Linked DNA regions of Homo sapiens: regions 2, 3, 4 and 5 are each reported to be linked to region 1. The links are microRNA targets in miRTarBase. Many come from high-throughput screens and were not tested one by one. Region 1 holds a microRNA gene; each other region holds the end of a gene's coding sequence. Distances are between the middles of the regions.

Region 1 (6,173 bases):
GCAAGCCCTCTGCCTGGGCTCCCCTCTGGCTCACCCTGGCCATATGCATAAGCCCTGGCTCCGTGTCTGAGAAGTGAGGGGTGGAGGGAAGGACCATAATAGATTCCTTGCGTGGAGCTCCTGTGAAGATTAGAAGGGTGTGGCCCATGTGTTGTATAACTGGGTGGCTGGTGCACAGCAGCTGAGGAATAGAGATAAGCTGTTAGTATAAGCAGTAAATAAAATGGACCATACATTAGCAGTAGTAATACCTAATATTTTTGTAGCGCCTACCTTATGCCAGCCATTGCTCTGAATGCTTCTCTGTGTTAACTCACAGCTTCCTTATCAGAACCCGATGAGGCAGGTATTTTTTTTCTTTTTTTTTTTTTGAGGCGAAGTCTGGCTCTGTCGCCCAGGCTGGAGTGCAGTGGCGCCATTTCGGCTCACTGCAAGCTCCGTCTCCCGGGTTCACACCATTCTCCTGCCTCAGTCTCCCGAGTAGCTGGGACTACAGGCGCCTGCCACCACGCCCGGCTAATTTTTTGTATTTTTGGTAGAGACGGGGTTTCCCCGTGTTAGCCAGGATGGTCTCGATCTCCTGACCTCGTGATCCGCCCGCCTTGGCCTCCCAAAGTGCTGGGATTACAGGCGTGAGCCACCGGGCCCGGCCGAGGCAGGTATTTTTATTGTCCCCATTTTACAGATGCAGAACCTGAGCCCAGGGAACTTAAACTCCTCACTTAAGATCATGCTATGGATTGAAATGTGTCCTTCCAAAATTCGTGTTGGATTCGTGTTGAAGCCCTAACGTGCAATATGACTGCATTTGGAAATGTGGCCTCTAAGGAATCAAGGCTAAATGAAATCAGAAGGGTGGACCTTGATCTGATAGAATTAGTGTCATTATAAAAAGAGACACCAAAGAGCTCTCTCTGTCTCTCTCTCAACCGTGTGAGGACACAGCAAGAAGGCAGCTGTTGGCTAGCCAGAAAGAGTGGTCTCACCAGAAATGCATCGGCCAGAACCTTGATCTTGGACTTCCAGCCTCCAGAACTATGAGAAAACAAAAATGACTGTTGTTTAAGCCACCTAGTCTGTGGTGTTTTGGTTACCACAGCCCAAGCTGACTAATACAGATCATCTTCTAGTAAGTGGGAGAATGAGGACTTAACCCTCGCAAACTCAAGTCCAGAGTTTAGACTTTTAACTTTTCTATTTTCATACTTTCTACTGTCTCTTCTGCTGTATAAGTGATGTTATAGTTTTATGAAATATTTATATGTAATATAATAGAACATGGAATAGAAAATATTTCCTGCATATTCATTCTTGCAATGAGAAAATTATAACTAGGCAAGGAATATATATGGTACAATCTAAAGTGAGGATTAGGCCGGGCGCTGTGGCTCATGCCTGTAATCCCAGCAGTTTGGGAGGCTGAGGTGGGTGGATCACTTGAGGTCAGGTGTTTGAGACCATCCTGGCCAACATGGCGCAACCCTGTCTCTACTAAAAATACAAAAATTAGCCAGATGTGGAGGCACAATGCCTGTAATCCCAGCTACTTGGGAGGCTGAGGCAGGAGAATCGCTTGAACCCAGGAAGCGGAGGTTGCAGTGAGCCGAGATCACACCGCTGCACTCCAGCCTGAGCGACAGAATGAAACTCTCTCAATAAGTAAATAAATAAATCAAATAAAGTGAGGATTGAACAATTGAAGGGTCACTGATAATCACTGTAAGGATTTAGCGCCAGGGCTTGGCAGTACTCAGGTGAGTAAACGTTAGTTATTGCTAATATTATTCATTTATCTTATTATTGTTATAATTGAGTTAGTTCTGTGTTCTGATCCATGAGTGAATTGGCCTCCTGGAAGCTGCCCTCAAATCCCTCCTCTTTTACACAGTGATTGATGGTCCATGTCGCCTCCTTGTAGTTACAGATTAATAATAGGCCCTCCTCCTGGAAACAGGCCAAACGCCAAACCCCATGCAAGCTGGCCTGGAGAAAGCACTTCTGAAACTTCATCACCAGCAGGCAGCTAGACGACTGTTGAATGGGAGGGGGGGTGGTTTTGAAGGGTGGAATGGTGACAGAATTAGTCACCAAGTAAACAAGCAACACCTTCGATCAATGCAATGGAATGTAGGTAACCCAGGGGCCCTCCTCACTGCTCAGCTGAGGGTGACGCCAACATGGCCAGGCTGGCACACCCAGCAGAACCAGCCCTCTGCCCCCAACATCAGTAAAGACCTTGCAGGAGGAAAGAACAACCCCGCTTTGCCTGCCCCACAGTCCTGCAGCTCCATGTGTGTGCCCGCACAGTGCTAGGAACACGGCAGCTATTATCAGGAGTGCCAGGTACAGTGCTACAGGTTGCCTCCTGTACAAGGGGACACAGGGAACTGAAATCCAGTCCTCACTGAACTGCCCAAGCCCTGATTCCTGGTATGGGACTTTGTGGGTCCAGGGGCAGGGGTGCCTTGATCAAAATCACCTTGGATGTTTTAGGGCTGCTTGGTGATTGATGTTTTGCTTTCGGAGTACTTAATTATGTTTGCACAAACGGATGGTAATCCTAAAAATCTTAGAGCTCGCTCTCATAGTCTTATTATTGCACCAAACATTGTTAAGTGCATGATAATCGCAGGTAATTTTAATTGGAGGCTTACTATGTGCCAGGCAGCACCAGGGTGAGCATAGCAGGACACAAAATATAGGAAGGCAACCATCTCTGGTGCAGAATCGGCAGCAGAGAGTGAGCGCCTCCCTGCATTTTATCCCCCAGGTGCTCACTGGCTTCACCCTTGCCCTGACCCTGGTGCCAGGCACTTCACACACATTGTCTCCTTTTCCCTTGCAGAGTCCCATTATTCCCTGATTGCACAGATAAAGAAACCAAGGCTGAGCAATGCCATCCCCTCATCTCACGAACGTCACCTCCATGAGGGTAGGCACCTTACTAGTCCTACTTGCCCAAGAGTAGCAGTCAGAAAGCTACGGGGAGGCACACCTGGGGTTTGAACCTGGGTCCACGTGACTCAGGCACTCAAATCCTGAACTGCTTCAGGGCAGGGCACTTGGCTTGAAGAGAAGCTGCAGACACAGAGACAATCAAGTCACATCTAATACTCCAGCAGGACAGATGAGCCTGCAAGGTGCAAAGGTACCCCCGCCCCCAACCCAAAGCCTTTTTCAATTCCTCTCCCTCCACATCTCTTGTCATGGTAAAGCAGGCAGAATCCATGGGCTTTAACGGGCCCATTGCTTTTCCCAAAGCTCATGCCTTTTTCCTAAAAACAAAACCCTTCTGGGTTCCAGAACTCTTTGGAAAAAAAGAATCTTCTGTGATTTGGGACATTGGTTTGTTCCCCCACCCTCACTTAAATGAGAAACTACTTTAGCATGCCCCGCCCCGTCTGTTGTCTTTATTTAGGAGGAAGCACCCTCTACATACCCTGAGTATATACACCCAGGGCCTGAAGCTGCTGTGATCAGCTCAGGATCCCCAGGAGGCTGAGGCGGATCAGGCCCTGGACTCCGGGGGAACAATGTAAGGGACACCAAAAAGCTCAGCCATGGAGATGAATAGTATTTTAACATGAAATTTGTGAAAATCAAAATTACCGCTGTTCCTGATCTTATCTTTCTGTAACATGTTCATAGTTTGTTCATCACGGGTGTCTTGCCATTAATTCTGACTTTTAAAAATGTTGTGTTAACATACCGTTTATCTCCATGACTGAGTTTTTTGGCATCCCTTACATTTCGTGCCCAAGGTGAGAGTCTCACTGGCTGCACCCTCATCCCAGGCCCGACTGGACTCCAGTTCCACAGCATCCTTTCCATGAGACCTGGAACCAGATGCAGCTCCCTCTTCACCCAGCTTCATGTTCCTAGTTGTAAAATGGAGACGATGGTAACAGCGAAAACAAGAACCACAGCTAAGAGTTACTAAGTGCACAGGTATTTACGGGCAGTAGAGTCCTCTCAGCCCTTTGATCTCAGTACTGTTATTAGGTTCACTTTACAGATGAGGAAACTGAGGCCCAGAGGGCTGAGGGAACCTGCTCCAGGGCACCCAGCCAGCCCAGGGTGGAGCTGGGGCTGGCATCTGGCGGTGTGGCTGCAGCGCACCCGCATTCTAATCGCAATGACTCTTCCAGGCAGGAAACTGGTTCAGAGGGAGATGTAAACAGCAGGGGTCCTGAAGCCAGGATTTGAATCAGCAGCTGCCTCATAGGGTGGTCTTGAGCGTTAAATAAGATTCACAAAAGGCACTCCACAAGTCCTTTTTCTTGTCCTCCCACTTCTTTAGGCAATGCCTGAGGTGAAGGCTCAGATTCCACTCGGCTATGGGGCATTCTTGCCCTGACGGATCCCCAAATCACACAGCCTATCCCTCCATCCAGTGACTTCTCCCCATGTCCTGTGCTTGAAATGACCCTCAATAGTTCCACCAAATAGGAGTTATTTATGTGGCTATGCGCCTAACACTGACCACATTGTCATTTGCTCCTTGTAAAACTAAAAACTTTGAGATGAGTGCTATCTTTGGGTCCATTTCACAGATAGTGGAACTGAGGCTTACACATATCCAAGGCCACACAGTGAACAGAAGGCAGAGCTGGGATCAAACTTGACCCTGTCTGACCCCTGGCCTCTATATGACACCGTCTACCACAAACAGCAAACCCTCCAGCCATGCCTAAAGGATCTGAAAGCAGTTACCTGCTGAGCCCCTGTGGGAGTATCTTCAGTCCCCTCGTGTCACCCGGAGCTGCTCCTGCACAGGGTCCTGGGTCTCCAGTGCGTGCTGCCCAGTGCCTGGCTGTCGGTGGAGCCTGGCTCCCTGCACTTTGCTTCCTTGTGCAGAGCCTGCTGGCTGAATACACAGAGCAGGGCAAACACAAGCCTGGGTGGAGTCCTCCCTTCTCCCCGGACCATCCTGCAGAAACAGGTTCTCTTCCTGATGTGGGGCTGCCCTCCCAACTCCAATAAAAACTGAGCACCTGACTCCTCTCGCATTAATGCCTCCCTGGCACCCCAAGTATTCTACCCAGTGCCCCTCACCTACTGAGGCTGCCGGGTTGACCTGGGGAAGCAGTTTCCTTCCCCAGTAACCGTAGGTCATGGTCAGAGCAGGGAAAACACGTTCTGTGAGATTTTGTAGTTCTGTCTGCTGACTTCAGAACACCACCTCCACCACCACCTAACCACCTAATTGGAAGGAAATAGCTTCTCATCCACTCAACTACCCCTAGTCATGTAAACCTTATTCCCAAAGGGGTTTGGACACCAGAAATCAGGTAACCTGAGGGTGGTTTATTGCTCTGGAGACATACCATGATGTTGGAAAGGGCATTCTTTTTCTTTGCAGGCCAGAAATTCGACAGGCTATGCAATTTATTTAATTCAAGCAAGGATGTTGTTTAAAGTGTCTTACAAGGACATATACAATAGATTATGAGAGCATGAAATAACATGTAACAAAAGAAGATTGAAGAACAAAATTTGGAACATCAAATGAGAACAGGATCAAAAATAAATGCTCTTGTTGATTTACAGACTTGCTATGAAGGGTTTGCAGATATGGCTTTGAGCTTCCTAACAGCCAATGCAAGAAAGGAAACTTGATAAGTTACACTACTTAGTGCTCTGGAGAAGACATTCAAGAGAATTGCGACCAATAATTATTGTGGTTTTATTCAACAGTATACTCAGCTTAACCCCTATCATGAATACTTGTCAAGCACCAGGCTATATATATAAGCCAGAGTTTAAAGAGGTGAGTAAAAGATGCTGGGTCTCTACCCTTCTTGCACTCAGTGTCATTGGACATAGAATCCTGTAAATATAAACATAGAATTACAGGGTGTGATTCTCATTATAAAAGAAAAGCCAAGGCAGCTAAGGGAGAGAAATAGAGAGAGCTGGGGAAGGCCTCTTTCAGAAATCAACATTTAAGAAAAAAAATACTATTTAAATAAATGCTGAATACACAACCAGGCACACCGTAATTAGGGTTGTAAAGTCGATTCCAGCTCAGCACTGTACATGTCAATCTGGAATGTAGTAAACCCAATTATTAAGCAGCTGCCATGCACACGCTCTGTGCTGACCCAAGCCTGGAGGCTCAGGAGCTTGAGCTCTGGCCCTGGGTTGAGACAGACAAGGGCTCGGATCTTGAT
Region 2 (6,173 bases), not on the chromosome of region 1:
GCTAAGGTGAGAAGAGATCACTTGAGCCCAGGAGTTTGAGACCAGCCTGAGCAACATAGAGACTCTGTCTCTACATAAATTAAAAAATTAGCCAAGTGTAGTGGCACACACCTGTGGTCCCAGCTACTTGGGAGGCTGAAGCAGGAGGATCATTTACGACCAGCCTGGGCAACAGTGAGACCCCTCACTGCTTGAACACTAGAGGAGTCATTTGGCCTGCATTCAGGGAGCCACATTGTATAGAAAACACATTTTTGTGTTTTACCTGACTATGGTTGAATTTCGTTAGTGACGTGGCTCCACATGCTGCAGAGGATCAGATACCCTCTGGGTGAAAAGGGACTCCTGAGGGAGAGGCAGGTGAGGGAAGGAGCTCTGTACAGAGAGTGGAGGCCTGTGGCCCTGCCCCTACTCACCCTTGTCTTGACCAGGACAGGGCCACAGGCCTCCACCTTCCTGATCTCACTGGTTTTTAATTTCCTTGTTGAAAATGAAGATCATACAGGGTAGTGATAAGGATTAAATGAGGAAGCAGGATCATGCAGTTCCTGGCATTGTGGATGATCAGTCAAGTTTTTAAAAATTTTGTCTAAAAATCTCAAAACCAATTTTTTTCTAATTAAAAATGTAACATATGTTCATTGCAAAGAATTGAGAAAAGATACCTATCTATCTAGATACATATATCAGAAAATGGCAACCACCTGTACTCCCCCATTCCTAGCAATCATCACTGCTTACAATATGGTGTATTACCTTTTGGGCTTTCTTTTTATATACACATTATATCATAATAATGACAATAATGATAAATCCTGACCGTGTTTCCCCAAGTGGACAGTACTCTGTCAGCGCTGGATGCTTCCTGATAAGCCTCTCCCTCTGCGATCCCAAGAGGCGTGGATCACCATGTTACCAAGGAGAACTTAGGACCCTGAGGGCTGTGAGCTACATGAGACACGCAGAATGAGTGCCAGTTGCAAATCTACCCCCTTCAGATCCAAGGGAAAAGTTGTTTCTGTTTCGGTCTGTGGAGACATTTTTTCTCTTCAGGGCCTGGGGAGTTTTTGCTTGAGGAAGGAATGTAGGTAGATCTGCACGGAGGAGACTAGCAGAGATTAGTATAGAGCAGGTCTCCTCTGACTGAACTTGCTTTGTCTACTGTTACTTTTCCTCCAGAATCTAAGTCTGGCTCCCGTCCCCGCAAGCCACCACCCCGGAAGCACACTCGTTCCTGGGCTGTGCTGAAGCTGCTGCTGCTGCTGCTGCTATTTGGTGTGGCGGGAGGGCTGGTTGCTTGTCGGGTGACAGAGCTGCAGCAGCAGCCCCTCTGCACCAGCGTGAACACCATCTATGACAATGCGGTCCAGGGTCTACGCCGCCATGAGATCCTCCAGTGGGTCCTCCAGACCGACTCTCAGCAGTGAGCTTGTCCCCAGCACCTGCTGCCTCCCAGCCTTGGAGTTTGGATTCCTATGGAATTGGGTTCTGCTGGACACAACCTCTTTTTAGCATCAGACCTACCTGCCATCATCAAATGGCTGCAGATTGGTACATGAGACCTCCTCTTTGTAGGACTTCTTCATTCCTTAGTCAGGGTTCCCTGAAGGAATGAGGAGAAATGGGAGGTGGCGGGGGGGCGTGGGGGGCAGTTACCTGCATGCCTAAAGGAGTAGGCTTGGGGGTGGGGAGAGAGAAAACATAGCCTTTTCTAGTTGTTATATAAAGCTGTGTAAAGGCAAGGCTCGTTTCTACTAAATGGTCAGCTGTCACTACATTTATACTTTTGTATGCCACAAACCCTTTCATTCCTCCCTGGGAATCAGGGTAGATCAGGAGGAACTGGGGGGGACTAGAACACCACGCTCAGTAAATCCAGTCTAAACTGGGAGGTAGGGGTATTCCTGTTTTCTTTAGGACCTCAGAGATGTAAGCATTTTAGCAGCCACACAAAATCTCTGGCTATGAAAGGGACTTCATGACCATCCAGTCCAATATAACACTTGCAGACAGAGAAACTGAGGTCTTCCATGACTTGCCTAGTCTCCCAGCTAGTTTGAGGCAAAACTGGATTCCCACTCTGGTATTCTTTCTTCCCTTTACATCATTTTCCCTCCTTTATAATGTCCTGAGAGACCAGAACTCACACCAGAATCGATTATTCCTCAGGTGAAGCATAGACTCTTTCATGGTAGACAGATTTCACGACTCAGAGATAGAAATCTCTTGCTATCATCAGGTCACGGGCAGCTCCTGTGGAGTCCTGCCCAACTTATGTGGCTTCCATAAAATGGCAACAGTCCAGGCTCCTTGCCTAATTTTAGAGCATTAACTCCCTAATTGCCAGTAAGCAAGGAGGTGGATCTCTGCAAACCTACACTGTCTATGACAGCTCTAGTTGTACTTGGTGTGACTAAATACCTCAAAGGCAACCTGCTTCTGCAGGTTTTGAAGTGTCAGCTTCATAAGACACTGAGGTTTAGAATTGTTTGATTCTAGACCATAACTGAAGGGCATAAATGGAAACAGGATATGAAGGGAAACAAGTAGCATCATGGAGCTGAAAAGTGGTGCATCACCCAATGGCTAGCACAAACAAGGATCACACTGTCCATTCTCTTGTCTGCTAAATTAAGCATTTTCTTGCCTCCTTTGCTTCATCTTTTCACAACAGCTGGATAGAGGGATCAGAAATGACTGTGTCATGGTGCTCATTCACTGCAAACTCCCAGTTGCAAGCTCCTTGGCTCCCCCGGAGGGAGCAAGAATCTCATAGTTCAGAGACACAGAGGGCCTTTTAGCCCTAATGACCTTTTGGATGGGACTGCAACTCATGACTATCCTGATATTGGAAGAAAGGACTTTGTTAATCTTCTCCCCCATAGCTCTGCTGCGTAGGTCTACATCTTACTCAGAATCACTACACATTCCTTTAGTCTTCCTCCAAGCTCCAGAGCCATTGGTACAAATGCTTTATTGAAACTAAATACATAATACACACAATGAGATGAAGACAATATAGAAGTCCGCATAGTCATCATAATCCCGTTCCTTGGCCGGTTGAGGCAGCTCAGTGGCTGAGCCCAGTCAAGCCAACCCGCAGCTTCACTCACGACTTCAAGATTTGATGCTAATTCTTTTGGATTTCTACAGTTATTAAATAAGTGTCTGAGTGGACTGTCTTTGTTCCTTTGTGTTTTGAGGGCTGGCTGGGTAGGAGTGGGGGTGGTTTGTCTGTGGCAGTGAATTTTTGCCAGGAGAGGAACATTAAATGCCAAAGGTAGGTGGCAGTATTTCAGTCTCTGCCCCAGCCGACAGGCAGAGAGACCTTCACAAATAATAAGACCCAAGAAAGACTGGGCCTCACCTAGGCTTGTGTTCCAGGAGGTGCTGCCAGTCTCTTCATTACAGTCAGGCTCTGAGGTTGGGGAAGTGGAAGTTTCCAGCTTTTCATCCTCATCCCTGAGGGCTAGAATCAGTCAGCACTATCTAAAGAGAGATGTGGCTGTAAAGTGGTCATCTGAAGGTAGATACGCCTGGATAGTTCTGGTCCAATGCGGCGAGAAGTGGATGTCACACCTTCCCCACGGCGCACCTGTATGTCTGCGAGCAAATTCTGGCGTTCTTTATCCGAAAAACACTGCTGATAAGCCTGGAAGTGGTAGATGACCTCTTAATATGGTACCATCCATGGTGATCCCTTCTCCATGAGCATGGAGGGTGCTACGCTTGGCTTGGGGCATGAGAACCTGTCCTCCCTCCCTGGGTCAGCATTAGCAACACTGATCTTAGTAGACCTGCACTGCTGACCTGTGAGGCCTTTGTGGGCCCTCAACAGTTGTCCATGGAAATCTGGGGGCCCACTGAGCCCGCAGGCAATGGGCAGTGACCCCTGAGCCCTGGAGCAGCATACCTGTACCAGGAGCTGTGGGGAGGGATAGGCATTCACAACTGCACTGGCCATTTCCAGGCTGACTCGGTTCAGCTGCTGAATCTGTCTCCTCCAGACTAGTGCGAGTCCCCTGCCAGCAAGGTCCACCTTCACCCCTCCAGCCCAGTCACTCTCCAGACAGAAGGAGAAGGTAGTTTCATCTCGGAGCTTCCTGCAACAGCGTGGTTGGAGAGCTGTAAGTTGCTCATTACTCTTCTACACCTGTTCCCCTCAAGTGGCAACTGAAAACCCCCCCACTGACCTTGGAAGAGGTGGGCGCCATGTTACATCTGGCCTTTTTGTGCCTTTGACAATTTGAGTGCTCACTTTGTTGCCAGGTATAGGGCCAGTTGCTGATTCATTTAAAAACTACATCTAGTCCATTATAGTAGAAGAAAAGATACCAGATTCTTTGGATATCTGGCAATCTGCAATCTATTTCTGGTTCTTCTAACTGCTAGGAGCTTAGACAAGTCAATCTCTTCAGGCCTCAGTCCCCTCAAGTATAAAATAAGGGACTTGGACTGGATTGTCTCTGAGGTCATTTACTTATTTTAAATTCTGACAGTGAACACTTCTTGAACTGAGTAGGCCAAAAATTTGCTTTCCTAGTGCTTATTACATTGTGATCTGACCTGTAATTAATCCTGGTAACTTGGCCTATGGTAACCTGGCCTATGATATCAGCCTGCAGAACACATACTTACATATAGGCGAAAGGAGAATATTTGAAAAGGCGCTAGGCTTGAGGACTCTTCCCAAGAATCCCCAGTGTGAGGTCAGCTCCTTCTGCCTCAAGCTTGAGAGACAATGGGCTGACTGCAGAGATGAGGGGAAAGGGACATTTGCTTTGACTGCAAGAGCCATGGTAAAGGACAGGCCCAGCATGGAGGCTGGACTTGCTGGGGTTACTCACTTGAAGGGCGCCTCAGCCACAGCCTTTGTGAATGCGCATGTGAAGTCGGCCAGCTCTTTCCAGCTCTGCACAATTTGAGCCTGGGCTTCTGTGTGTAGCTGCAGATCCACCAATGCCTAGAAACCCAAAAGCAACGATGGACTGGAAGGGTAGGAAGAGACTAGCTGCCAAGTCACTGTCCACTAAAGCCACACCCCAGCCCCTTGGCTTCCTGTTTGGTACCTTCTCTTAGTCAGTGCCAAGGCAGAAAACAGTACGCAGCAGGCATTTTATTCTCTATCAATAGCAAGTCTCAGGTGACCAGTGAGTACCCAGCCCGATTCAGGCAACAGGACGTTCTTACCTCTTCAGCGTCTACCCTGGATACCATGGACCCTATGCTGGCCTCTGGTTGTCTCTGCTGCTGCTTCTTGGTCTGTTTATTTGCTCCCTGTTTCCCTCTTCTTGGAGGATTCTGAGCACTGGTGCAGGGGAGGAAATCAAAGAACAGCAGCTCCAGGCTGAAGTCAGGCAGAAGATACAGAAGAAGACTGGACCAGAGCATCCCCCTGGACTTGTTAGAGATGGACTACCTTGCAGAGTGACCTACATCTGCAATGAATAAACTAAACTCACCCCCCTTGGCCCAAGAGCTGCCCCTTTTAACATGAAATCACCAGGGCAAATCCAAACCTGAAGCATTTCTCCTGATCCACAATCACCAGTGACAGAGCTTTCCCTGCTGTCTTTGCTGTGATGTCAGTTACAAAGCCCTGAAGCGTTTCCTTCCCTTTCATAGTGCTGTCCAGGCTTCCCTGCATGAAGGGGCAGAAACTGCATTAATACTTGCTTCCTAGTAAGAGTCAGCCCTCTGTTCCGTGTCCTCCCACCCTCTGGCTCTGCCCACCTGCTTTCCATTGTCGATCATGGACACAAATGCCTCTGCCCGGAGCAACACCAGTACTGTTGGCTCCTCCACCCAGTCCTCTCTGTCCTGCCAAAGTACCCAGAACACAGCACAGGGAGGGAGGTCAGCAGGTATTGAGCACCTGTGAGAGTGGCCCAGGTCTTCTGGGTGAATGAACTAACTCCCACCCCTTATGCATTATCCTTTCTGGAATGAAGTCACTGTGGCAAGAAACAGTGTCGCTGTCCCTCCCAGCCCTCAATGATTCAGTCTTGGTGCCCTGCATCTCAGAGACAGTGAATAAGAAAGGAACATAGCAGCCGGGCGCGGTGACTCACGCCTGTAATCCCAGCACTTTGGGAGGCCGAGGTGGGCAGATCACGAGGTCGGAGATCAAGCCCATCCTGGCCAACACGGTAAAACCCCATCTCTATTAAAAA
Region 3 (6,173 bases), not on the chromosome of region 1:
ATGATTCAGAGTTTATTGATTTACTTGCACACTGTTCTAATAATCTTGGTTACCTGATTTCTCAGAATACAACAGATGAGAAACAACATATTGGAAGAAAAGAAAGGCTCTTAGATGGAGGCAGGCTGCCACTGATTATAGCACAAATCACCATGAGAGAGGAGGTAGATCCTCTGGTATGGTTAGGTACTGTTTGATAATTGATGTTTATTATGATGACTGAGTCATGACTTATGTTCAAGTGTGTCAGTCTGTTTTGTTGAGGGACATCATCAAGTATTGGGCAATGTTTCTCAAACTGTGTTCCATGAACTGTTTATAAGTATTCTACAAATGTGGTCGATTAAGTTTTAGAAATACTAAAATTTATTAATTTTAGAAAATTAATAAATTAGAAATATAGGACAGCTTCCTTTTGGGAATTCATAATACACATTAGTATATTAAATGCTTTGCAACTTTTTATTTCAGTAAAAAGTTTACTCTAGTTTTTCTAAACTTATTTGACCGTGGAATTATTTTTTCTCCCTGTGGAACATGTCGCCATCTTTTGGAACAATTTGGGAAACTTTAATCTTCTATATTTTACAAATTTTTTTGTCAAAAGTTTTTAAAAAACAAAGCATTTAAAGAAAATTGCTTTTCTGAAATGTTCTACTTTTGATGATGCTAGACAGTGACACTTACAGTAACATCCATTGTTCTTAAGTCGTTTTTTAAAAGTTGTACTTTTAAAATGATTTTCATCTCCTGGTTTTGGACAGTTCATTCATTGTGGTATGTTTGCTTATAGGGCACTTGATGACATTAGTGAAAGCATCAAAGAGCTTCAGTTTTACCGAAATAACATCTTCAAGAAAAAAATAGATGAAAAGAAGAGGAAAATTATAGAAAATGGGGAAAATGAGAAGACCGTGAGTTGATGCCAGTTATCATGCTGCCACTACATCGTTATCTGGAGGCAACTTCTGGTGGTTTTTTTTTCTCACGCTGATGGCTTGGCAGAGCACCTTCGGTTAACTTGCATCTCCAGATTGATTACTCAAGCAGACAGCACACGAAATACTATTTTTCTCCTAATATGCTGTTTCCATTATGACACAGCAGCTCCTTTGTAAGTACCAGGTCATGTCCATCCCTTGGTACATATATGCATTTGCTTTTAAACCATTTCTTTTGTTTAAATAAATAAATAAGTAAATAAAGCTAGTTCTATTGAAATGCAAACCTTTTTGTACCATCTATTCTTTAGTAGTTTAATTATTGGGAAAAGATGGCTTTTTCTTTTTTAAGTGATATGGCTAATGTTTAAACTCTTGTAATGCAATTAGGAATCGGTTAATAAGTTCATGTCAAACAGGAAGTGAATATGTTTTGCTTTAGAATAACCGCAGATAAGTTTAAAGAAGCAGATTTGGGCTCGTTGTTAGAGTTATTGAATTAACAGCACTGGACTAGGCTACTCTGCTACATTCAGGAAATTCAATTCAGACGGATTCTGTAACTAAGGTTTATTGCAAGTAATAATTAGGGCTTATTTATATGCACAGCAGTGACTGCTTGGTTTACAGAATGTAAATAGCTTGCTGCCCTAGTTCTAATGGTCAGTAAGTAGCTGAGAAAGGATTTCAATTCGAACATACTAATTCCTAAGTTTACGTATTCTAGACCACAGTACTAAGGTGATTTCCTAGCCAGAGTGTGCAATAGAATCATCTGTAGAACACATCTCATTGCTTTGTGCACCTCATTCTGACAAATTCCCCTTGAAGACAAATCAGAATTGGGAAAGGCCCACAGGTTACTTTCCTTTCCTTGAGAACCACTAGGTGAGAAGACTTCTGTGGTGATGTCAAATTACATTTCATATTACAGATATGAACATAGTAGCGTGATCCTGATGTGTGATAGTTACAGATAGATCACTAGCTAGTAGATCAGAATAACCCCATAATATTTTCATTTGAGTAACATTTTAACATGTACTAAGTTGTGTTACCTACACTACAGCTGTATCAGTGGAGAGAGGGATTGTAGTGTAACTTTTTCCAAATGAGTGAATTAAGACTGAAATTCATGAGTCTACTAAGAATGAATTTATGAAAACATAAGTCTGCTGATCTTTTTGACCACTTCTTTCTGGAATGGCATGGGTTTTAGCTTATGCACCAACTTCAGTGGCTTGGAAGGCAGGATTGGGTAGTACAGTTGACCGTTGGACAACACAGGTTTGAACTGCAGAGGTCTACTTACATGCAGATTTTCTTCTGCTTCTGCCACTCCGGGGACAGCAAGACCAACCCCTCCCCTTTCTCCTTCTCAGTCCACTAATGTAAAGATCATGAGGATGAAAACCTTTATGATGATCCACTTCCACTTAATGAACAGTAAATTTATTTTCTCTCCCTTAAGATTTTCTTAACTTTCTTTTCTGAGAGCTTACTTTATTGTAAGAATATAACATATATATTGTTCCTGATGTTTGTATAAAAAATATATTATCTCTTACATATAACATACAAAATCTATGTTAATTGACTTTATATTATCAGTAAGGCTTCTGGTCAGTAGTAGGCTATTAGTAGTTAAGTTTTGCGGGAGTCAAAAATTATATACAGATTTTTGGTTGCACAAGGGTTTGACACCCCTAACCCCCGTGTTGTTCAAGGTTCAACTGTAGTTAAGAACAGGGCTCTTGAATCAAACTCTTAATTCAAGTTCAGGCCCCTGACATACTGAGTGACTTTGGCAAGTTGCTTTTCTAAGTCTCAGTTTCCATATCTGTAAAATGAGGTTAATAACGTTACTTAATGAATTGTTAGAATTAATTTAAATGCTATTCATACAGTTCTGAGCTCAGCACAGTGAGCATCGTGTAATGATAGCTAATGAATATTGATAATAAAGGGTACTATGATTAGTTATGAGGCTGGAGGCATTATCTTAAATCAGCGTTCACTTAATGCCTATGACTGCCTACATTGTGCTGAGGACTGTAGTAAACTTCACTAATAGTGTGACCTTGACTTGGTTTAGTGTTTCCAACTAAATTTGGCAAAAGGGTCTTTGCCCTTACTTGGCTTTCAGGAATGTTAAATTCTAATGTGATGATAGATAAGAAAACACTGGGCTTAAGAAGGGTTCGTAGGAACCAGATACTGCTATTAATGAATGCCTCAAGGTTTCTTCCACACAACTGGCTGGTTTATTCACCTGTTTAACTGTTCAAGCCAGTTTAAAAATTTTTAACTCCTGGTGTTACTGCTTTAATGCTGTCTTCTGTATCTTAATTGTGTAGCTAATTCTATTGTCCTTTAGTGGAGCTTGTGTTGAATTTTAATAAAATAACTGGTAGCCTGTGAGTTAAGCAAAACCAGTCTAGTGCAGGTATATATGAAGACATGCTGGTTCAGTGATTAGTTCATTATTTTTAAGTATTTTTAAGTTAAATTTAAATTTGTAGTGCTGGTATTTAGGATTTCACAGGGGATTCCTGAAGCTATGAAGTAATTTCTGTGAAATGAACTGCAGTGCAAATTGGTTTAAATAGAACTACAGCTTGAAAAATGATCAGTATATTTGCTTAGTAGAGCTTGCCATTCTAGTGCTCTTGGGGGGCCTCTCATTTGCTGGTTCGTTCGGTGCAGTAATTGTCCTGCAAGCTATGTTCTTAGGATCGTCCAGGTGTATTTCCCCCTATTAAACTCAAGGTGAATGAATCAGTACAGATGCATTTTGACTTACAGTGGGGTTACATCCCAACAAACCCATTGTAAGTTGAAACTATTAAGTAAAAAATGCATTTAATAAATTTAGCCTACCAAACATGTTAGCCTAGCCTACCTTAAATGTACTCAGATCACTTACATTAGCCTATAGTTGGGCAAAGTCATCTTAACAGAAAGCCTATTTTATAATAAAGTGTTGAATATACCATGTAACTTAATACTGTAGAGAAGGTGAAAAGCAGAACGGTTGTATGGGTAGTCGAAGTACGATTGAAATAGTATGAGCAGACTCTAGCGCTCTCGCCAAGACACTGAACAGCAGTGCTGCTGCCTCCTGCACCCAGAGTGTTTGCTATTACCTGACCTAGAACATCTGGAGCCCATAGATCCTAAAGAGCAGCTTTTTGAGGAATGCAGGGCTGTCGTGGATACTTAACTTCCCTGGTTCCAGAGAGATTTTGTGGATCTGAGGACAGACTCCAGTAACTACCTACCTATTAGAGTCATGCAATGGAACAACTTCATCCAAGCTCTTGGAAAGACAAAGACAACTTTGTACAATGCCCTGTTGAAACACTCAAGTGAGAAGAAAGGAAGCTTCTCACGCTAGAAGAAATCCTATTCTACCAGCCTGATATATTGTGCCTCCAAGAGGTAGAACAGTATTTTGAAACCTTCCAACCACTCCTCAGGAGGCTGGGCTATCAAGGCACATTTTTTTTCCCCCAAGCCCTGGTCATCTTGTCTAGGTATAGAATACAACAGTGGACCAGACAGCTGTGCTTAATTTTTCCTCCAAAACCAAATCAGGCTAGTGAACAGTGCCAATATTAGGCTGATGGCCATGACATTGAAAACTAATCAGGTGGCCATTGCACAGTTCCTAGAGTGCAAGGAGTCAGACCAACAGTTCTGCATCGGTGTCACCCATGTAAAAGCACGCACTGGCTGGGCGTGATTTTGATCAGCTCAAGGCTGTGACCTTCTTCAGAACCTGCAAAATGTCACTCAAGGGCCAAGATTCCCCTTGTTGTTTGAGGGGACTTCAATGCAGAACCAACACAAGAGGCCTAGAAACACTTTGCTTCCTCCAGCCTCAACCTGAACAGTGCCTACAATCCCCTGAGTGCTGGTGGGCAGTCAGAACCCCCATATACTACCAGGAAGATCTGGACCCCAGGGGAGGGCAGGCACACCCTCTGGTATTCTAAGCATGCTCTAAATGTAAGGTCAGCTCTTGATCTGCTCACCAAAGAACAGATTGGATCCAACTGGCTACCATCTTTCAGACCACTGGTATCTGGTGTGTGACTTCAGCTTTAATGAGGAATCTGATGGACTTACATAAACACTTGTTTTTGTCTTTTTAATCACAAGAGTCTTAACCAGGGATGTTTCAGGAAACTGAAATAGGATAAGAAGTTGCCTAACGAAGGATAGAAACATGGGAAGTTTTTGTCATTTCATTTTTTATATTTCTAGCATGCCCTTGGGAAAGGATCCCATTAGTTTACAAATCTATAGCAAAAAGGTTTTTGCTTTTGCACTCCAGTTCTGGCGTGTATTGTTTTATTTTCCTTAGCATTACATTTTGATTGTTTAAGGGCATTAAATTGGCTTGTTTTAGCTGGGCACAGTGGCTCATGCCTGTAATTCCAGCACTGTGAGAGGCTGAGGCGGGAGGACTGCTTGAGGCCAGGAGTTTTAGACCAACCTGGGCCACATAGCAAGAGCTTGTCTCTATTTCTTAAATACATAAATAATTAAGAAAAAATGGCTAATTTTGAAGGTTTTTCAGTTTGAGGATGCTATAAAAACTCAGAATTGCTTGAATCCTCCATAATTAATCAGTATATAGGAGCAGTTTCTCTAGACAGCATGTCAAGGTATTTGTGAGTTAAAGAAATGTCAACAAGGCTAGGCGTGGTGGCTCACGCCTGTAATCTCAGCACTTTGGGAGGCCAAGACAGGAGGATCACGAGGTCAAGAGATTGAGACCATCCTGGCCAACACGGTGAAACCCCGTCTGTACTAAAAATACAAAAAATTAGCTGGACGTGGTGGTGCAGGCCTGTAGTCCCAGCTACTCGGGAGACTGAGGCAGGAGAATCACTTGAACCTGGGAGGTGGAGGTTGCAGTGGGCCAAGATGGAGCCACTGCACTCCAGCCTGGTGACAGAGCAAGACTCCATCTCAAAAAAAAAAAAAAAAAAAAAAAAGTCAACAACATACGCATGGAGATATTTTTTTAAAAAATTCACATAAAATTAAGTAACAAATTATAGCATTGTGAACATTTTAGAACCATGCAAGACACAAATTATGGAGAAAGTAGTTTACGGTAATTTTCTTAAAGCTTTAAAATATTTTCATTTGGGCTTTAATAAAATGTGTACAAAAGAACTATTTAGCCTGGAGGGGGTTTTGTTTGTTATGTAGGTGTAA
Region 4 (6,173 bases), not on the chromosome of region 1:
GAAGTGGTGGGCAGACATCTCAAGAGGCAAAAGAAGTTTGAGTTAAAGCTGGTCTAACAAGGCAGATCCCGTGGAGACCATCTTGCCCAGACTTCTAAGTTGACAGATGAGAGACCAAAATCCAGGGAGACTGAGTCACCTGCTCGAGCAGCACATTCCCACGTGGGATGTGATGGGACTCTGCATCTAGAACCATTGTTTCCTACTATCAGATGTCACAGCCAGAGGTTCCTTGGAAGGGAGAAAGCTCCGAGATGATGCCAGCCTTTTGCAAGTCTCTGCCTTCCTGGAGCCCACGTGCTGTTCTGGGAGAGGCTAAGTAGCAAGGACTCTGTGCCTCTGCAGCCACGATTTCTCTCTCCATTCTGTTTGATTCCCCAGCTTGGTTCCCTCCAGCACCACCTCCAGGTGAAAGCCTCCACAGATCCCCCTGGAGTGCTCCACCCTGGGGAGACTCCGAGCAGGCAGGCCTGCTTGGCCTCTCTCTTTCCCAGCCTTGAATGTATGAGAGAGACCAGCCTCAGCCCTCAGGAGTAGGAAGCTGCTGCCTACCTACTTCCTTACGAACCTGCCTAGAGGTGGAGGGATTTAACACACAGTTGAAAAAGTCATTAACAACACCTGGCTCTGATTAGTTTAGTAGGAAACAGAGTCCTGAGGGTGCGGCACACCCTGAGTGTTCACTGCAGCATGTCTGCTAGGGAGGTATAGATGGGGCTCAGGCCCAGGATGCTGGACTGGAAAGTGGGGGCAGGTGAAGGTAGGTTTTCCTTTGAGTAGCTGTGGAGCAGCAAGAGGGTCCTGAGAGCATGGCCAGGAGACGGCAGAGTAGAGAGGAGAGAAGAAGCATCAGAGGGACTTGGGAAAACATCTGACAGCTACCAAACCAGTTCTAAGCATTTATAGCATTTCCAGTTTTGTCCTATTGTGGGTGAGCCAAGCACCTCCAAAAAGAAAATATAAGAAAGAGCCTGAGAAATGTTCCTGAGGAATGGCAGGGCCGCCCCTTGTTCCCAGAAACCCTTTTAGGAAAAGCACGACTCCACAGAAGGTGTCAGGAGGGGAGAACCTGAATCTGATGCTAGAGGGATGCTGAACCCTCTAGCATCCTTGAGACCCCACAAGCACACAGAAGAAGAGGGAAGGGATCTGCACCCATCATGGCAGCCAGGAATGACCCTCTTGGAACATCTCAGGAGGCTCGAAAGCTCTGCCCAAGCAGGTGGGATGCTGAATCCTACCGGAGGAAGGCAGAGGTTTCCCACATACAGAATTACTCTGACTTCTGTAACAACAGGCTCTTGGAACTCCCTGAGCAATTACTACCTCCCCACTCAGCTCTCTGCCTGGCTGGCTACTAGTAATTTATTGCAAATAAGTCTCATTTCTCCAATAAGACAGTCGGCTTTTCTACCTCCGAATTCCCTACAGAGCTTAAGATAGCTGGGAACCCAGCTGGTCCTCATTAAGGCCCTTCTGAACCCGAATCTTCCCAACCTTCCTGGCCCCACCTCCACCCCTTCATTCCAGGAGCAGGCTCAGGGGAACGGAGCTGGCCAGGCCACTCGCTTCCCTTCCCTTTCCAAAGAGCTGGACTGGCAGATGCTAATAAGGAAAGTGAGAGATTCTGCATCTGCAGATCTGACTGGTAGCCTGGCCAAAGAGAACAAGAACTTCTGTATAGGTAAGCAAGGAATCTTTATTAGCAAATTCTCTAATTAGGGTACCCTTTATAGCTCTCCTATAGGAGATATTCATTTGTAAGTTTTAGTCAAGACCGTGAATCTCAGGGAGAACTGAAAATTTCTAAGAATATTGTTGAGAAGGGTCTTTGGCAGGAGCCTCTTAAATTCCTGGGTTTTGGTTCCTTCATCTATAAAAAAGTAGGTGTGGGAGGCCGGGTGTGGTGGCTCACGGCTGTAATCCCAGCACTTTGGGAGACCAAGGCAGGTGGATCGCTTGAGGCCAGGAATTCAAGACCAGCCTGGCCAACATGGCGAAACCCCATCTCTACTAAAAAAAAAAGTACAAAAAAAATTAGCCAGGCTTGGTGGTGCACACCTGTAGTCCCAGCCACTCAGGAGGCTGAGGCATGAGAATCGCTTGAACCTGGGAGGCAGAAATTGCAGTGAACCAAGATCATGCCACTGCACTCTAGCCTGGGTGACAGAGTAAGATTGTCTCAAAAAAAAAAAAAAAAAGGTAGGTGTGCCAAGGCATTACTATAAGCAGGTGACTTACACCAGGTGACCTGAGCAAGTACCTTCCAATTCTATTCTTCTGTGCAATACTGGACCATCTCATTCATTCATGTGCATGACAGTAATGTGGATTTAGAGTAAAAAGACCCACGGTTGACATCCTGGCTCTAGTGCTTACCAGCTGGGTGGTCTTGGGGGAGTCACTTAATCTCTCTGAATTAATTTTCTTATCTGGAAAATGAGGACAATAATAATAACATCTGCACCACATAGATTTGTGAGCTCCCACATATGGGCATGTTTTCTAAACTGTAAAACACTATTCAAATGTTACTGAGTATTGAAAGACCTTGATGGCTGTAATTTTTTTAAACTTCCCTTTAAATATGCAAATGATTATGATTGACATCAGAAACACAAAAAAGATCACAGCTGCTGGATTTGCTGTTAACTTATCCCTGCCCAGGGGGATCTACTACCCCATCAGTGCCTCCTGAGGCAGGGACTTAAGGGAGCTGGGCAGTAAATGTTGATCCCAGGGTAGAGGCTGAAGGTCTGACCTCCAGGGACACAGGGCGAGGCTATTTTGCCATTCAGCAGAACTTCTCCCACGTTGCTTCTACAGTTTGACAGCAGACTCCCAGCAACTACTTCCCTGGTTAATAAACTGGCAGTAAATTGAAACCTTCATTTTCTAGTGCACTTCATGTAAAGGGAGCAGACCCTCTAGAAATGAGTAATCATTTGTACAACTCCTCAAAAAATATGCTGATAAACTCACAAAGTTCTGTTATTGCTAAACACTAGTTGCATTTCCTTGGGTAAGCACCATAAAAAATTCACTGCAGTTTTTAGAAAGAAGATGCCAGTCACATTTTAACTGCTAGAGAGGAGAGAGTTGGGGAGAGGCTTACCCAAGGAAATGCTAACTGGGCATAAAACTCAAAAAGAGAGGCCAAGTCAAAGGCCCAGTTCCAAAACAAGAGCTAAGAAGGAGAGATGGGTCCAGGTGCGGTGGCTCACACCTGTAATACCAGCACTTTGGGAGGGCGAGGCAGATGGATCACCTGAGGTCAGGAGTTCGAGACCAGCCTGGCCAACGTGGTGAAATCCCGTCTGTACTAAAAATACAAAAAATTAACCAGGCATGGTGGCTGCAGTATGCCTGTAATCCCCGCTGCTCGGGAGGCTGAGGCAGGAGAATTGCCTGAACCCGGGAGGCAGAGGTTGCAGTGAGCCAAGATGGCACCACTGCACTCCGGCCTGAGTGACAGAGCAAGACTTCGTCTCAAAAAAAAAAAAAAAAAAAAAAAAAGGGGAGAGAGAAGGAGAGATGGGCCTTGCAGGGAAACCAGACCTTCCCAAGAGAGCATTGACTTAAGTGCTTCTCAGACTCAAGATCTCAGAGCACCTGGATGGCTAAGGCTTTTCATTGCAGATCATGACATGTAGATTTTTTTTTTTTTTTTTTTGAGACAGAGTCTCACTCTGTCACCCAGGCTGGAGTGCGGCTCGGCTCACTGCCATCTCTGCCTCCCAGGTTCACGCCATTCTCCTGCCTCAGCCTCCCGAGTAGCTGGGACTACAAGGCGCCCGCCACCATGCCTGGCTAATTTTTTGTATTTTTAGTACAGATGGGGTTTCACTGTGTTAGCCAGGATGGTCTCGATCTCCTGACCTCGTGATCTGCCGGCCTCGGCCTCCCAAAGTGCTGGGATTACAGGGGTGAGCCACCGCGCCCAGCCAACATATAGATTTAACAAATTTAAAGAATTAAACAAACCCCATTTCTACAAAAGATACAAAAGAAGAATTAGCCGTGTGTGGTGGCATGCACCTGTAGTCCCAGCTACCAGAGAGGTTGAGGTGGCAGGCACTGAGCCCACAACATCGAGGCTGCAGTGAGCAGAGATGGTGCCACTGCACTCCAGCCTGGGCAAAACAAATAAGCACAAACCAAAATTCTCAAGTAGATGAACAGGAGTCAGCACCAAAGCTTCAATATGTATAGAAGATAGAAGGAAAATTGTAATTCTACCCTGTAATATGTGTTTGTGTCTGTCTGTCTGTCTGTCTGTCTTTGTGCGAGTGAGAGAGAGGAGACAGAGAAAACTGGACCAAGACCATATATCACTTTAATAACAGAACTCCTTGGACCAGTTCACAGAACTGTCATTTAAAACCAATGTCCTAGACCAACTCCAACCTTCTTGTTTTCCAGTGTACCCACCCCACACAGGGCCAGCCACAGCCAGGTGAGAACAGGAAGGGGAGTGGAGAGGGAGAGTGGAGAGGGTCCTGACTCCCATAGGCTTCATCTGGGCTGGCCCAGCCTTGACCCCATCTGCCCAGGAGCCTCTCAGCCATGGAGTCCTCTAGGGAGGCACTTAGCCCACCTAGAGCACAGGAAAAAGGTGGGACGGGGGGCACCTCCCAGCACCCTCCCAAAAGACTCACACAGGGGCAGGGAGGGGAGAGGGCAGAAGGGCAGGCTTCCTGCTGCTTCTAGCAGCCTCTTCATCTCCAGCTCCTACCTCTCTCCTCCCCCTCATCCCTCAGCAACCACAGCATGCCCAACCAAGTCCCAGCCTCTCTTCTGTCATTGAGTCTCTAGTGAGAAAGAGGACTCTGAAATCAGGGCCCAAGAGGAGAGACCTGTTGGCTGGGTGGCTGGCCAGTGGGTAGTGACTGTTCCTCACACACAGTAGTAGGAGGTCCATGCGTTCTGTGTCGGAGGCTACTGCCTCTCCTCCATTAGTGGAGCTGCTGGAGGCCCCAGGAAGCATGAGGCAGTGGTGTGCAGTGAGACTGGAGGAAACAGCAGGACTCAGAGGAGGGAGTCCTAGACCAAAAGGGAAAGGAACTGATTCACAGCATGGCTCTACACTAGCCAAGCGACTTTTATTTTAGTAAATCACTTAACCATGCAGGGCCTTGATTTTCACTTCTATCAAATGAGGCTAAAAATATCTGCTGCTCAAGATTTTTTGTAAGATTTCTTTGAGAAGATCAATACATACATTCCCTGTAAACTCCGAATGTATTATCTACCAACCCCCACCCCTGCCCAACCTTAGAGGAAGATGCTTTTCATGATCATGCCCTAAATTTGTAAAATACTTTAGGTAAATAATGTTTTTGTTTTGTTTTGTTTTTGAGACAGAGTCCTGCTCTGTCGCCCAGCCTGGAGTGCAGTGGCACGATCTCAGCTCACTGGAACCTCCGCCTCCCAGGTTTAAGCGATTCTCCTGCCTCAACCTCCCAAGTAGCTGGGTGCGTGCCACCATGCCCAGCTAACTTTTGTATTTTTAGTATAGACAGGGTTTCACCATGTTGGTCAGGCTGGTCTCGAACTCCTGACCTCGTGATCCGCCCACCTCGGCCGCCCAAAGTGCTAGGATTACAGGCGTGAGCCACCCCACCCGACCAGTAATGTGTTTTTATACACATTATCTCACTTGGCCTTCCCATTGAACAGATGAAGGAGAGTGGCTTGCCCGGAGTCACACAATTTACGTAGGTGCAGAACCCGAACTGCTAAATGCTGAGCTCTCTCCACAGTGCAGGGAATGTGGCCACTAGTAACTGCCTTAGAGACCAGGGATGAATGATGGTAACAGATATACACATAAATAACACGATAGGCCGGGCACAGTGGTGCATGCCTGTAATCCCAGCACTTTGGGAGGCCAAGGCTGGTGGATCACCTGAGCTCAGGAGTTCAAGACCAGCCTGACCAACATGGTGAAACCCATCTCTACTAAATACAAAAAATTAGCCAGGCGTGGTGGTGCATGCCTGTAATCCCAGCTACTTGGGAGGCTGAGGCAGGAAAATCGCTTGAACCCGGGAGATAGAGGTTGCAGTGAGCTGAGATTGCACCATTGTACTCCTGCCTGGGCAACAAGAGCAAAACTCCATCTCAAAAAAAAACAAAAAACACTGCAGATCACTCACTCTAAGCCTAGCACT
Region 5 (6,173 bases), 20 Mb from region 1:
TCCCCCAAGTAGCGGGGACTACAGGCACGTGTCACCATGCCTGGCTAACCGGATTCTCGATGGCAGCTTTTGAACCCAAGTCCCCATGTCTGAAGATCCCTGGACTTTACAATTTGTGAGCCAATAAACTTCCTCCCACTAAGCAGGACTGAATTCAGTTTCTGTAACTTGTAACCAGAAGTCCTTACTACACCTACTGAGGGTGGTTGTGGAGATTAAGTAAATGTAAAATGTGCTTTTTAACAGCAGGTGTTCAGGAAATGGTTTACTGTTATGGAGGAAGTTTATTATGAAGAATCTGGCTACTGGTGGAGGGATTTTGATTTGCCTAAAACCTCAATCAATCAATGATCTGGTTGGGATGAAAACCAAGGATGCCTGGCTCAGAATCTTTTGCTCTGCTTTGCCTTCTCTATTTCTGTGGTCTTGTCAGACAGGCCTACTGCATATAACATCCTATGGGGCAGGTTATGACCTTACGGGTCAACCTGGCCAGGGATGGCAAATACCTGACGCTCACGTGCCCACACTTGAATTCCATGCTCATAAGAGAAACTGCCAAACTATCATGTCAGTATTTCCAAACAGTCTGAAAATTGCTGCAGATCCTCAAAAGGCACTCCAGGCAGCTGCTACTAAAAGTTCTGAGTTGGCAAGTGAAATGAGTCCTGAGGTAGATTTTTTAAATATGGCCATATTTTGAAGCTCCTCCTGTTAAGAAGAATTTGGGCTTAGCCATGTGACTTACTTTGGCCAAAAGATACGTCATAGCAATATCCTCAAGAGCACTCGCATACTGGGCTTGTCTTCTCTTGCGGTTTTTGGAACTCAGCCATGATGTCTAGAATCCTGGGTCAGCCTGCTAGATGCTGGAACGTGTGGCCCAGTTGCCCAGCCAACCACCTGACAGGCGGGCGAGGCCATCTGAGACCAGCCAGTCCCCAGCTGATCTGCCAGCTCACTTCAGCCACACGAGGGCCCAGATGAGATAAGAACCACCACACTGAACACAGCCCAAACTGCCAAGCCACTCACTCAGGAGCTAATAAATGTTTATTAAGGCTACTAAATTTGGGGGTGGTTTGTTATACAACAGTCAGTAACTGAACAAAGGCCCATTTACTATCCCTGATCCAGATCAACCTCTCATTTTACAGCTGAGGAAACTGAGACCTGGTAAGGAAAAAGACTTGCCCAGGGTCATCAACCTGGCTGGCAGCAACAGGGGGAAAGTCCCAGGCCTCTTAGCTCACAATCCAGTATACCCACTGGCTGCTCTATTCTTTCAAGATGGCTGTGAGGATCACAAATGAGGCTTTCAATCTGAAAACATCTAAAGACTGATCCTTTAGGCAGAATCCGGTACCACATTTATCACCATCTCCTTCTGGAGTTTTCAGATGTTAGAAAAATGACAACTGTTGCGCAGCGGAATGGATGTTTTTGCTGCCCCGACTCAGAGGAAGGGCATGTGTATGCACTGTTAGAAGCCAACCTCCCACCCAAGGGCCTGGCTGTGTGCTTTCCCAGGGGCTGGAGCATCCAGGGGCTTTTCTGGAGTTCCAGGATGGGACTCTCGTTCTCCCTGTCCAGCATATGACCCGGTGCCAGCATGACCAGGCAAAGCCTTATGGGCCAAGGTGAGTAGAGCTGATGCCTGCTACCCTTGAAGGTATCTTCCCTGCTTTTCTCACGGTTCTCCAAGCCTGGCATACTAAGGAAGCCTATGGTCACAAGCCCATGATCAACCTGACCCTCAAGCTCTGAAACGTTGAGTTCCTCAGTAAAGCATGCTTGGGTAGGACCTGCAGCAGGCATATAGCACTAGGCTCTGGGGGCAGTGCCTAGTGCTATTGTGCCCTCAGTGTGAGGTTCATTCAGCTCTAAATCCCATTCTTTGGACTTTGCCCAAGTTCCAATCCAGGCTAGCAGCTGTCCCCCATGTTTCACAGATGGGGACACCAAGAGCTAAGGGCAGTAATGACTTGCCAGGGTATTGAAATGGGTCTGTTATAGCTGGCTCTCGCCTTCTGGGCAAGGAAAGATGTGGGTACATGGATGGGTGAAGTATGTTCCACTGAGAGCTCTTCAGGGAGATGAGGCACTCCTTGCAGACCTAGCCCCTTCCTCTGTACACCCTCTTCAGCTCTCCAAATAGAAGCCTTTTGATTTGACTAAGCTGGGCCAAGGCCCAGCCCAATTCCAAGGGGCCTGTTTCTCACCCCATGCCTGCATCTCATGGCCTCAGGGCCTCAGCCTCCACCATGGGCTCTTGACAAATCTCTACTCTCTCCCTGCTGCCCAGGGTCCATGGCAAGCAAATATATGGGGACCGTGATCCCCCTGGGGCAGCTAATACTCAGGCAATGGCCAAGCATGGATTGGGGCTTTTGGCTCAGGTATGAAGCCAGAACTCTGGCCACCTTGGGGCTGGCCTAGTCAGGCCCCAGCAGAGCTTGGGAATATCAAAGCACAGAGCTACACTGGGGCCTCAGAGTGCTCGCCTGCCCAGGATGACAGGCAGGAGGGCTGCTCAGTGAGAGAGACTTCCCGGTGGAGTTTGAGCACTGCCCAAAGCCTCCACCCTCTACCAAAACATGGAGCCAAAGCCCAGGAGGAAGCTTCCCTGGAGGCTGTAGACCGGGTTGGTTTGAAATGGGGAGTTTTCAATAAGGATTCCAGCAGATCTGCAAACTTTGATCAACACGTAAAGATGGAGGGAAAACCTAAAGCCCTTTTTGATGATGGGATTGAATTTTTCTGTGTTGGGGGAAGGCTTCCAGAGGAGAGAACAGGCAATTAAAGAGCAGTCGGAGGGTCTGGGAGACTTCTCAGAGGTGGCGACACCACAGCAGCAGCTTCGTCCTGAGCGGCTATTTCCCAGGTAGAGAAAGTAGGAGCAGGAGGAGTACGTGCCAGGCCTGGAACAAAGCCTATTTCTGGGTGCTGCCCTCCCACAGCTCCATACCAACGAGACCAGCCTAAGTGGCCACATATGAATCCCGCAGTTCACTGGACCAGGGTAGGTACTTGTAACCTATGAGTGATTAGGAAAAAAAATTACAGTGGCAGTCGATTCTCTCTTGGGAACTTGAACATGGGGAAAATGGATCCATTCATTGTGGGGAATGAAGGGGGAAGTAGGTGACATTAGCAGTACACAATGAGCATGTATAAGCAGCACACGTTTGAAGGAACCCGGCTGATTGTTAGAGAACAAATGTCTAGACGGGTGGCCCAAGACAGGGGCAGACAGGCTGCGTGTCTCCGGATGCAAACTTCCTACTGATTGCTGTCACTGGAGTACGCTCTATTCCTTGCTACCAAACCTGCCCGGAGTGTGAAGAACTTGTGTGTTTTGTGAGACTGAGATGTAGGGTTTGTGTCAGGGGCAGGAAAGGGGTGGTGACAAGAAACAGGAGAGGCTGGAGTAAGCAGGATCTTACACCCTACATTCAGGAGGTAGGGTTTTGTCCTGATGATGAAGAGTCAGTAAAGGGATTTTAGGCAGGGAAGGGATACGTTTCAGAAAGACTGCGTGGCTGCTGGGAGATGGTACAGGGCAGAGGCAGAAGACTGGGAGGCTGGTGGGAGGACAACGTCCAAATGAAAAAATTATAGTGTCCTAAGCCAGAAGAGAGAAGGTAGAGACTGGCAGACTCTAGAATCCTTTTAAGAGCTGGGAAAGACCAGACTTAGAAGCTGGGGAAAGAGATAAGGTCTTGACCTACTATGGGGTAAACCAAGTGGGTCACAACTGCTTGACACTTCAGCCAGCAAGATGCTCATGGGCCAGCATATCCAACCCTCCCCAGTGGCCCCACTGGCCATTTTAATCACCACTGAGGACACTAAGGTCCAGATGGATCAGTATTAGGCACCCTAGACCAGCTTTTTGGTTGGCAGAGGGGCCGGGATATCTTCATGAGAAAACACAAACCATCCCATCTCAGAACAGGTTGGGATCCAATCTCTTTATTGTCAGGGTCCCCTCCCTGTGGCCCCCCGCCAAACCTATAGAAAAAACCCAAGCCTGGGAGTGTCCTGGGGAGGGGAGGTAGTATGGGGAAACCCCTGTGCTCTACCCTCTGGCCTGGGCAGTGCAGACAGGGAGGGCTCATGGGGAAGGAGTAGGCCAGTAACTCCACCTGCAGAGGACATGGCACTGGCTGGGATGCGTTGGGGGAGGAGGCGCCTGCTGCCAGCTTTCCTCTGGTACCCGCTGGGGGGTGGCATCCAGGGTTGGGTGCCCGGCTTGAGGCCTGGGGCAGCGATGCCCTTCACCTGCTGGTGGCCATTGCTCCTGTCAGGCTGAGAAAGAGAGAGAGAGAAAGAAGAGACTAAGGCTGAGAGGAAGAGACCCTGTTGCTGATAAAAGGGGTAGGGAAGAAAGGGTGGAATGATGTCTGGAGACAGAGAGATTCTTGCACTCTGGCTGTGGCCTCATAATTTCCTGGCCATGTAACCTTGGGCAAGTCTCACCCGCTCTCTGAACCTCCATTTCCTCACCTGAGCCCATATAACTCACCTGTGAACTATTTTAACAAGCTTTGGAAAGCACCAGGCACAAAGGGGTGTAGCAGGATGGCTGGATATGGAGGTTTGTTTGCATCCCAGGCAAAACAAACCAAGAAGTTCCAAAAGAAGACTGCATATGTACAATTTTCTAAAGCTCTTCTGGAAGCCTTTGCTGGTGGGATATCTTACTACAGCATAAATGTGTCATCTATCCAGACACCTCCCTGGAAACACTAGTGTTTGAGACCTTCCTCCACCCAAGCCACCCCAAGGGAATGGGTCAGAGAGTAGTAGGCACAGCCAGGTGTGGCCTGGCTTTCCTTTAAGGTAGGGCAGAGTAGATGGTAAACAGTGGCCAGAGAGTGGGCTTTGAAGCCACACACCACTGGGCTGAAATCCAGGCTCCACCAACTACTACCTTATCTCCCTGCACCCTTTAGTGTCTGTTTCCACATCTATTATATTGGTACAATCATCAGCTTGTGGGATTGAAGATGAACTCAGAGAAAGCAGGTGCAGCTCCTGTCACACAGGGCATTTCCTCCCCATGAAAGAATCAAATCCCAGCCCCTAAGCCTGACACATACGGCCCTTCACAATCATCACCCTCTGACAATAAGCAGAGTCCTCTACCAACTAGGGGGGCACTGCAGCCACAGGAGGCTCTTGGCCTCACCACATACCAAGGACTGTCACAGCTCTGTATGGCTAAGGCCATTCCCCTGGTGTGGAACATTGCTCCCTCAATCACTAGCAGGCTCAGCTACACATCATCTCTTCCATGACCTGGCCTCGCTCTATTGTTATCCTGCTCACACTAGGTGGTAATGGCTTATGTCTTCCTCTACCAGACTAGGAGCTCCTCAAGGGCAGAGACAGGCAACATGGCTGAGTGTGCTGAGGGAAGGAACCCTTGCTAGGTGGGCCCGCCTGGCCCATCTACGGCACCTGCTTCCTCAGCATGGCAAGCCCCAAGCATGAAGGGGTGTGACGGGATGGCTAGATATGGAGGGGACTTCATTCTTGGGTATAGTCAGTGCTACTTGGCCAGGTATGCTTCGTGACACTTCCTGCCCAATCCAGGGAAAAGGCACAACCTCCACTTCACTGATTCCCCACCCTCTGCCCATCAGGACAGGACCCCTGTACCTGCTTACTGCAAGGCCCCATCATCCGCGTCTGTGTCCTGGCTGTGTTCCTGATAGGGAGGAGGTAAGAGAGACCACACATCACTCATTGCCAGCTCTGAGTCCTGCCCTGAGCCATTTGTCCAGAAAAACTTCATGGTCCAGAGGGCATCTAGAGGACACAGTCAGAAGACGCAGGAACAGCCAAGGGGAATGACTATGGGACCAGCCAACAAAGCTGGCTTGGGAACTTGGAAGGGTGGTCTGAGGACCCCACACAGGCCAGTGAAGGGTGTTCTGGGAGTGGCAGGAGCCCCATTTCTGTGCAGAGAGCCTGCACTGGAGAAGGCTGAAAGCCTTATAGACTGGTGAGCTCCCCATCTCTGGGGGCATCCAAGTCTTTGTTAGGGCCTTTATGGACACTGCTATGCCTGAGAAAATAAGATGAAGGATCAGGCTACGCTCAAAGGAGAGATGAGCTAGCATAAGGCAGACCTCCTAACCGTCATGGCCATGAGCCCATCTGTT

Evidence for each region. Region 1 holds the annotated microRNA hsa-miR-4756-5p (CAGGGAGGCGCUCACUCUCUGCU, at 2,733-2,755, opposite strand). A microRNA usually pairs through its seed, bases 2 to 8, with sites in the 3' UTR of a target mRNA and lowers its output. Matches are read on the target gene's strand: a 7mer-m8 pairs with bases 2 to 8, a 7mer-A1 pairs with bases 2 to 7 and ends in A, and an 8mer does both.
Region 2: the mRNA of LRRC59 is a reported target of hsa-miR-4756-5p. Seed matches in the 3' UTR shown: 7mer-m8 at 1,811-1,817 and 7mer-A1 at 2,333-2,339.
Region 3: the mRNA of REXO2 is a reported target of hsa-miR-4756-5p. The part of its 3' UTR that is shown has no 7-base or 8-base seed match.
Region 4: the mRNA of TMPRSS5 is a reported target of hsa-miR-4756-5p. Seed matches in the 3' UTR shown: 7mer-m8 at 4,667-4,673 and 8mer at 4,578-4,585.
Region 5: the mRNA of RALY is a reported target of hsa-miR-4756-5p. Seed matches in the 3' UTR shown: 7mer-m8 at 4,109-4,115.

Annotation. Positions count from the first base shown.
Region 1 is chr20:54,065,720-54,071,892 of GRCh38, forward strand. It overlaps MIR4756 (microRNA 4756), which reads right to left and starts at 2,766; the gene lies at 2,689-2,766. It overlaps BCAS1 (brain enriched myelin associated protein 1), which reads right to left and starts at 4,875. Exons shown (of 13, transcript NM_001366298.2): 1 at 4,714-4,875. RefSeq lists an enhancer at 3,594-4,468.
Region 2 is chr17:50,378,242-50,384,414 of GRCh38, reverse strand. It overlaps LRRC59 (leucine rich repeat containing 59), which reads left to right. Exons shown (of 7, transcript NM_018509.4): 7 at 1,180-3,177. The coding sequence ends at 1,427. It overlaps EME1 (essential meiotic structure-specific endonuclease 1), which reads right to left. Exons shown (of 9, transcript NM_152463.4): 4 at 5,734-5,820; 5 at 5,520-5,641; 6 at 5,191-5,308; 7 at 4,848-4,963; 8 at 3,914-4,103; 9 at 2,932-3,652. The coding sequence ends at 3,476. Among named protein-coding and RNA genes, the nearest start is that of EME1, 8.1 kb to the right of the region's middle.
Region 3 is chr11:114,449,053-114,455,225 of GRCh38, forward strand. It overlaps REXO2 (RNA exonuclease 2), which reads left to right. Exons shown (of 7, transcript NM_015523.4): 7 at 794-1,227. The coding sequence ends at 923. It also overlaps the pseudogene LOC100422382. Among named protein-coding and RNA genes, the nearest start is that of REXO2, 13 kb to the left of the region's middle.
Region 4 is chr11:113,683,232-113,689,404 of GRCh38, forward strand. It overlaps TMPRSS5 (transmembrane serine protease 5), which reads right to left. Exons shown (of 13, transcript NM_030770.4): 13 at 4,319-5,043. The coding sequence ends at 5,029. LOC107984390 (a long non-coding RNA gene) reads right to left here and starts at 3,279. Exons shown (of 3, transcript XR_001748391.2): 1 at 1-3,279. RefSeq lists an enhancer at 6,109-6,173.
Region 5 is chr20:34,078,048-34,084,220 of GRCh38, reverse strand. It overlaps RALY (RALY heterogeneous nuclear ribonucleoprotein), which reads right to left. Exons shown (of 10, transcript NM_016732.3): 9 at 5,668-5,716; 10 at 1-4,311. The coding sequence ends at 5,672. Among named protein-coding and RNA genes, the nearest start is that of EIF2S2, 31 kb to the left of the region's middle.